Regions from separate parts of the Homo sapiens genome. Here regions 1 and 3 are each linked to region 2. Evidence: fine-mapped expression QTL. A gene starts in region 2. Each other region holds a variant in brackets. All regions are shown on one strand. Distances are from middle to middle. Region 1 overlaps SHCBP1L (SHC binding and spindle associated 1 like). Region 2 holds the start of NPL (N-acetylneuraminate pyruvate lyase). Region 3 has its middle 12 kb from the start of LAMC1-AS1.

Region 1 (2,768 bases), 150 kb before region 2:
TCAAATGTGAGCAAGAAATACTTGCTCAGACAAAACAAAACAAACAAAACTGAGAGTTTATCATTAGTAGGCCTGTTCTGCAAGAAAGGTTAAAGGAAGTTCTTCAGGGAAAAGAAAAATGAGAAAAACTCATGTCTACATATAGTAAGGAACAATGTGGGAGAAGGAATAAAGGTAAAATAAATTATTTTATTATCATTATTATTATTATTTTATTTATTTATTTTTCTGAGACAGGGTCTTGCCCTGTCACCCAGGCTGGAGTGCAGTGACGTGATCATGGCTCACTGCAGCCTCGACTTCCCAGGCTCAAGTGATCCTCTCACTTCAGTCTTCTGAGCAGCTGGGACCACAGGTGTGTGCCACCATGCCTGGCTAATTTTTTTATTTTTATTTTTGTGGAGGCAGGGTCTCACTATATTGCCCTTGCTGATCTCAAACTCCTGGGCTCAAGTGATCCTCCCACCTCGACCTCCAAAGTGCTGAGATTACAGGTGTGACCCACTGTGTCCAGCCTCTATTTTTCTTATTGTTGATTGATCTAAAAGATAGCTATTTAACATAATAGTGGTAATGATTCATTAGGTAATTAAAGCTCATGGATTACTGAAATAAATGAAACAATATCATAAAAGATGGGAGGATAGAATTGGAATACTCTGTTATATGGTATCTGCATGACATGTGAAGTAGTATAGTGTTATTTGAAAGTGGACTTAAATTAGTTAAAAATATATGTTGCAATCTCTAGGGCAAATATTAATTTTTTAAAAAAAGAAGTATAATTGATTTAAGAGAGTAGATACAATGGAACAAAATAAAATGCTAAATTAAAACTAGAAGAGGCAGGTCTGGGTGTGGTGGCTCATACCTGTAATCCCAGCATTTTGGGAGGCCAAGGTGGGTGGATCACCTGAGGTCAGGAGTCCAGACCAGCCTGGCCAACATGGTGAAACCCCATCTCTACTAAAAATAAAAAAATTAGCCAGTTGTGGCGGTGCATGCCTGTAATCCCAGCTACTCAGGAGGCTGAGACACGAGAATCACTTGAACCTGTGAGGTGGAGGTTGCAGTAAGCTGAGATCATGCCACTGCACTCCAGCCTGGGTGACAGAATAAGACTCTGTCTCAAAAAAAAAAAAAAAAAA[A/C]AAAACAAAAAACAAAAAAGCAACCAAAACACTAGAAGAGGCAGAAAAGAAAGGGAAAAAGGAAACAAAGGACAAGTGCAACCTCTGTATTAATAGAAACCAGCTACAATATGGTAAATGTTAATTATGTCAAAATAACTGTAAATGTAAATGGTCTAAATAAAAAAGCAGAGATTATGAAAATGGATTTAAGAAAACAATATCCAACTATATGTGATCTGTAAGAAACCCACTTTATAAAGGTTCAGATATGTTCAAAGTAAAGGGATGGAGAAAGATATTTCATGCTCATGCTAATTAATAAAAATCTGGTGTGGCTATATTAATTTCAGATGAAGCAGCCTTTAAGAACTAGGACAATTATCAGGACAAAAAGGGACATTTCATGATGATAAAGGGTTTGGTTCTCCAGGAAGATGTAACAATTCCTTACCATTCCTATTCACCTTCATACTAGAAGTTCTAAATAATGCAATAAGACAAGAAAAAGAAACAAAAGGCCTACAAACTGGAAAAGAAGAAATAAATCTATCTTTATTTGCAGATGACATAATTGTCTATGTAGAAAATCCCAAAGAATCAAAAAGGAACAAAACTCCTGAAACCGATAAATGAGTATAGCAAGTTTACAGGAAGCAAGGTTAATATTCAAAAATCAACTGCTTTTTTATATACCAGCAGTGAGCAATTTATTTTAAATTTTAAAAATTATTGACAATAGAACCAAAAATGTGAAATACTTAGGTATATACCTAACAAAATATAGGACCTATAATGCAGAAAGCTACAATACACTGATGACAATAAATGGAGAGATATCTTATGTTCTTGGATTGGAAGACCCAATATTTTAAAAATGTCAGTTCTTCCCAACTTGATCTGTAGATCCAGTGCAATCCCAGTGAAATTCATAGCAAAATATTTTGTAGATATTGGCAAACTGTTTCTAAAACTCATGTGGAAAGGCAGGAAACCTAGAATAGCCAAAAAGTAGAAGGACTCATACTACTCGATTTTAAGACTTACTATGAAGCTGTAGTAATCAAGACAGTATGGTATAAGTCAAAGAATAGATTAATGGAAGAGACAGATAGAACAGTGAAAGGAAATAGAGTCCATAAATAGAGTCCTTATATAGTCCAGATTAGAGAGTCCATAAGATCCACACATAGAGTAGACTGACTTGACAAAGGGCAAAAGAAATGTAATAGAAAAAGGATATTCTCTTCAACAAATGGTGCTGGAATAATTGAATATCTATATCCAAAAACGTGAACCTAGATACAGACCTTTCACAAAAATTAACTCAAAGTGGTCCATAAACCTAAACATAAAACTCAAAACTATAAGACTCATAGGAAATTATAGATAATCTTGTGTTTGGCAGTGGGTTTTTAGGTACCACAACAATACTGTATGTTATGTGAGAGAAAAAAGTCATAAGTTGGACTTTGTTAAAATTGAAAACTGCTCTGAAAAATACACTATTAAGAGAATGAAGAAACTAGCCACAGATTAGGAGAAAATATTTGCATAATGCATATCTGATAGACTTGTATCTAAAATATACAAAGAGCTCATAAAACTCAAACATAACAAACAACCCAATTAAAAATGGGC
Region 2 (2,768 bases):
TTTGCAAACTTTGAAACGCCTACAGGAAGAAATGGGATAAAAACGACTTTGGCCGGGCGCGGTGGCTCAAGCCTGTAATCCCAGCACTTTGGGAGGCCGAGGTGGGCGGATCACCTGAGGTCAGGAGTTCGAGACCAGCCTGGCCAACATGGCCAAACCCCGTCTCTACTAAAAATACAAAATTAGCCGGGCGTGGTGGCGGGAGCCTGTAGTCCCAGCTACTCGGGAGGCTGAGGCAGGAGAATGGCGTGAACCTGGGAGGTGGAGCTTGCAGTGAGCCGAGATAGCGCCACTGCAGTCCGGCCTGGGCGACAAGAGCGAGACTCCGTCTCAAAAACAACAACAACAACAACAACAACAACAACAACAACAACAACAAAAGACTTTAACAGAGAATGATCAGTATTTTTAAGATTCAAGTTTTTAATAAACTTGGGAATGTTATGCTTTGAAGCATAACAGATAATTATCATTATTTTTAAGATTCAAGTTTTAGATAAACTTGGGAATGTTATGCTTTGAAGTTTTCAGAGCTCGTAGCTAAAGCGAATAGCTCAAATGTTCTCCAGCCTAAGGCTTAATGTGAATTTAGATTATTACTGAAACATTGGGAGGGGGTATTACTCTTGAAATCTTATACCTCCATCCACAGATAAGAACACTCAGTGCAAAGAATTAAAGCTGCCTAAGTCAAATTCTTTTTTAAATGGCAAAGTTGTTTTTTTAAGAGACAGAAAGTGAGGGCAGAATGTACCTCTGGGCAGAGAATATCTTGAGGGACAGGTACTCGGAGAAGAGGAGATACAAATAGGGATTTTTAAAAAAGCAGAAAACCACCAATTTCTCCTCAAGTGAAGGGGGGATGTATCAGGTTTAACTTTAAGCTCTCTTCTGCTCAATTGCTAACTCTATTTTGAGGAAAGGACCTTTGGAGACCCGGCAGATATGCTGTCTGCAAACAATCCGGGGGAGTAAGTTCTTCTGCCCCCGTCTGTCCCTACACTTTTCGCATTCACACCTTCCCCAGATCCGTTTCCCAGCGTATCTGCCTTCCCTCTTTCCTCCGGGTCCGTCAACGTCTCACCCACCCGCGAGTCAGGCCCCAGCGCCCCTCCGCCCGAACGCCCAGGTCGTCGGGCCGTCTGCGTCCGTCTGTCCTAGCCCGTGCCGTCGCGGGCCGCGCTCACCCAGGCCTCCGCTCTTGTCCGTGCAGCCGCTCCGCCCGGCAGCCGCCGCCGCGCTTTATATCCGCGGCCGCCCGGCTCGGGCCCACGTGCCGCCACGCCAGGGAGCCTGGGGGTTGTAGTTCTGCGCCGCCGCCCGCGAGGCGCGCCCGGAACCGCTGGCCCGGAAACCCCGAAACGTTTTGCACACTGGAGTCTGCTCTTCCCCGGGTGTCACCTGAACAACATGGGCTGAAGTGACTCCGGCGCAGCGCCCCGGCTCCCCGAGGATCGGAAGCATCCGAACTGGCGGCCGGGTGCCCGAGAGCACGCGGCTCACCCGCGCCACGCCGAGTGCAAACCTCCCCCTGCCTCGTCTGCACGCCAGTCCTTCCCGCGTGCGGGCACCTCCTGGGCTCCGCTGCGTCTTAATTTTCCTTCTCTTGCGCAGGGCTCTGCAATCCCCACTATCTCGTGGTTCTGCGTTGTGAGGTTTGGGCTGCTGTTTCCGAGGCGTACGGAGAATCCCAACTGCCCATCGGCGTTCAGGTCTCTTCGGGTTGACGCCGCTGCACCAGCCCTGCAGACTCTCGTGTTAAAGAGAGATGAGCGAATTTTAAAGTGAATTATCTACTCATACGGGAGCTTTCCTGGCTTCTTTTGGAGAACATTTGAAAGAGTTTTGAAAGGGAAAATTATTTTTAACCCAACCGCCTCTACTTTCAGGAGTATCAGGAGTCTTATTCTAGGATCATGTACTGTGTGAATAAATCAGGAACAGAGCCAGAGACAAGTCCTCAGTTTTCTCTTGCTGATGTGATTCCACCTCAATTTTCCATAAAAGGCGATGGCTGATGCTTATTATTACATTTAGAGAAACTAAATTGTTCAAAGGGCTTTCTAGTTTGCAAAGTGCTTTTAAATGTATTCTAATAGTTCTTTCGTTGCACAGAGCACCAGAGATAATAGCTAATAAGTACTGTGTTCAGTGCTTACTCAGCCTGCACCGTTCTAGCTGTTTTAACATTTAATTCATAAAATAATCCCATTGGTGGGTCCTGTTTTATAAATGTATATATTACAGATGAGCAAGGATCATTCCATTTTACAGATCAGAAACAGGTTTAAAGAGTTGAAGTAATTTGCCAAAAGCCATAGAGCTGGTTAAGCTGTGGTTTGATTTCAAGTAGTCCAGAAGCTTGTGCTTTTAACACTATGTTATCCTACAGGAAAAAAAAATACAAAAAGAAAAGAAAAAGAAAAACCCTTAGTTACATGAAGCAAGTTCTCCTAAGGCTGCAGCATGGTTTTTGTTTTGGTTTGGTTTTTGTAATATTAACAAGAATATTATATCCTAATGGTACAATGAAAGTTTTTTTTTTTTTTGGAAAGTCACAGTTTAATAAGTGCAAAATTAAGTATGTCAGTACCCAAAAGGTATAGGTCATTAGGCTTAACATTGTCAACCAACAAACCAATATTCTAAATGCATGAACTAACTACTTTTTGTATAAATATGGTAGTGCAAAGTAATTCCTTATAATAATTTGTTAGTGTCTACCAAGAAGCAGATGCTAAGATGGGATTAGATGTGCAAGAAACTTA
Region 3 (2,768 bases), 360 kb before region 2:
ATATCACTTCACCCCAATTAGAATGGCAATTATCAAAAGGGCAAAAACGTAACAAATGATGTTGCGGATGTGGAGAAAAAGGAATCCTTACATACTGCTGGCAGGAACGTAAATTGGTATAGCCATTATGGAAAACAGCATGGAGATTCCTCAAAAGCTGAAAATAGAACTACCACATAATCCAGCAATCTCACTCCTGGGGCTATACTTTAAGGAAATAAAATCAGTATGTCAAAGACAAATCTGTACTTCCATGTTTATTGCAGTACTATTCACAATAGCCAAGATATGGAATTAACCAAAGTATCCAGCAATGAATGAAATGATAAATAAAATGTGGTATACAGTATATACACAATGGAATACTACTCAGTCATAAAACTAATGAAATCTTGTCGTTTTTGGCAACATGGATGAAGCTGGAGGACACTGTGTTAAATGAAATAAGCCAGGTAAAGAAAGACAAATACAGTATGATCTCACTCATTTGTGGAATCTAAAAAAGATAATCTCACAGAAGTATAGAGTAGAATTGTGGTTACCAGAATCTGGGGAGAGGAGAGAAGAGGGGCAGATGGGGAGAGATTGGTTAAGAGTACAAAATTACAGTTAGATGAGAGTAGGTTCTGGTGTTCTATAGCACAATAGGGTGACTCTAGTAAATTATATTATAGTGTATATTTCTAAATATCTAAATAACTAGAAAAGAGGGGGCTGAATGTTCTCACCACAAAGAAATGATGAATGTTTGAGGTGATGAATATGCTGAACACCATGATTTGATCATCATACATTGTACACATGTATCGAAACTTCCCTCTCTACCCCACAAATAATGTACAATTATTATGTGTCAATTAAAAACAAAATAAAAAGTGCTCCCACTGGTCAAATACGGGACAATTAGAAATCAAAATAAAAATCAAGAACAATATGTTGTACCCCATTAAATAAAATAAGACCCCATGAATCTAAAATAATATAAATATGTAAGTAAATGAATAAGGGAGAAGCAAAAGCTTTACCTCCAGCATAATGCCAATTAATATATGACATATAGGCTGGGCGTTGTGGCTCATACTTGTAATCCCAGCACTTTAGGGGGCCGAGGCGGGTGGATCACCAGGTCAGGAGTTCAAGACCAGCCTGGCCAAGATGGCGAAACCCCGTCTCTACTGAAAATACAAAAATTAGCCAGGCGTGGGGGTGGGCGCCTGTAATCCCAGCTACTTGGGAGGCGGAAGCAGAGAAATGCTTGAAATCGGGAGGCAGAGGTTGCAGTGAGCCGAGATTATGCCACTGCACTCCAGCCTGGGCGACAGACTCTATCTCAAAAACAAAACAAAACAAAACAGCAACAACAAAAAA[T/AT]GTATTAGAAAATCTCCATTTAGTAGCCATCATCACTGGATACAAAAACTGGTGGACAAAAATGTGGGGAGTAACAGGATATTTATATAGTCTCAGAATATCTTCTCACAAAATACACATTTATTACAAAAGGTAACAGAGTAACTTTACAATGGAGACCTGGAAGACACGACCCTAATCAAATCTCAAAGTTAACATTGCCAGTAATGACTTATGTGCCTCCTGATTCAGTCAATGTATTATTAAAAAGAATTCAGCATCACTTCTGTGATCTCCCTGCCAAAAGCTTATAATCTGAATCTAATCAAAAGAAAACATCAGACAAAGAAAATCGAGGCTCATTCTTCAAAATAACTACCCTTATTCTAAAAAAATGTCAATGTCATGAAATGCAAAGAAAGATCAGGAGCTAAAAGAAACAAAGGAGACAAGACAGCTGAACACAACACATGATCTTGGATCTTCTTTTGCTATAAAAGATATTATCGAGGCAAATGGTATATTAGTTTTCTACGGCAGTCATAACAAATTACCTAAAATTTAGTGGCTTAAAAGAACACAAAGGGCCAGATGTGGTAGCTCAATCCTGTAATCCCAGCACTTTGGGAGGCCGAGGCAGGTGGATCACCCGAGGTCAGGAGTTCGAGACCAGCCTGGCCAACATGGCAAAACCCCGTCTGTACTAAAAATACAAAAACTAGCCAGGCATGGTGGTATGCACCTGTAATCCCAGCTACCTGGGAGGCTGAGGCAGGAGAATCGCTTGAACTTGAGAGGCAGAGGTTGCCGTGAGCTGAGATCACACCACTGCACTCCAGCCTGGGCAACAAGAGTGAAACTCTGTCTCGAAAAAAAAAAAAAGAACATACATTTATTATTTTATGGTTCTGTGGGTTAAAAGTCAGATGGGGATCTCTGCGCTAAAATCGTGGTGTCAGCAGAGCTGCATTCTATCTGGAGGCTCTGGGGAAGACCCATTCCCTTGCCCTTCCCAGCTCCTAGAGGCTGCCCCACATTCCTTGGCTCGTGCCCCCTTCCTCCTCCTTCAAACCAGCAATGGTGCAGAGTCCTTCTTACATTGCATCACTCTGATGTCTTTTTCTGTCTTCCTCTTCTTTTTTTTTTTTCTTTTGAGATGGAGTCTTGCTCTGTCGTGCAGGCTGGCGTGCAGTGGCATGATCTCAGCTCACTGCCCTCAGCCTCCCGGGTTCAAGCAATTCTCCTGTCTCAGACTTCCGAGTAGCCGGGGCTACAGGCACACACCACTACGCCTGGATAATTTTTGTAATTTTAGTAGAGATGGGGTTTCCCCATGTTGGCCAGGTTGGTCTCAAACTCCTAACCTCAGGTGATCCACCCACCTCAGCCTCTCCAAGTGCTGGGATTATAGGAGTGAGCCA

What was found.
Region 1: its variant is fine-mapped to the expression of NPL in whole blood (INTERVAL, PIP above 0.99).
Region 3: its variant is fine-mapped to the expression of NPL in whole blood (INTERVAL, PIP above 0.99).

What each region holds. Positions count from the first base shown.
Region 1 is chr1:182,934,516-182,937,283 of GRCh38, reverse strand. The region is part of intron 5 of SHCBP1L (SHC binding and spindle associated 1 like); the gene reads left to right. Among named protein-coding and RNA genes, the nearest start is that of SHCBP1L, 17 kb to the left of the region's middle. The variant A/C (reference allele first, on the strand shown) is at 1,149.
Region 2 is chr1:182,788,225-182,790,992 of GRCh38, reverse strand. NPL (N-acetylneuraminate pyruvate lyase) reads right to left here and starts at 1,220. Exons shown (of 13, transcript NM_030769.3): 1 at 1,188-1,220. RefSeq lists an enhancer at 1,067-1,567.
Region 3 is chr1:183,151,946-183,154,713 of GRCh38, reverse strand. No RefSeq gene overlaps it. Among named protein-coding and RNA genes, the nearest start is that of LAMC1-AS1, 12 kb to the right of the region's middle. The variant T/AT (reference allele first, on the strand shown) is at 1,369.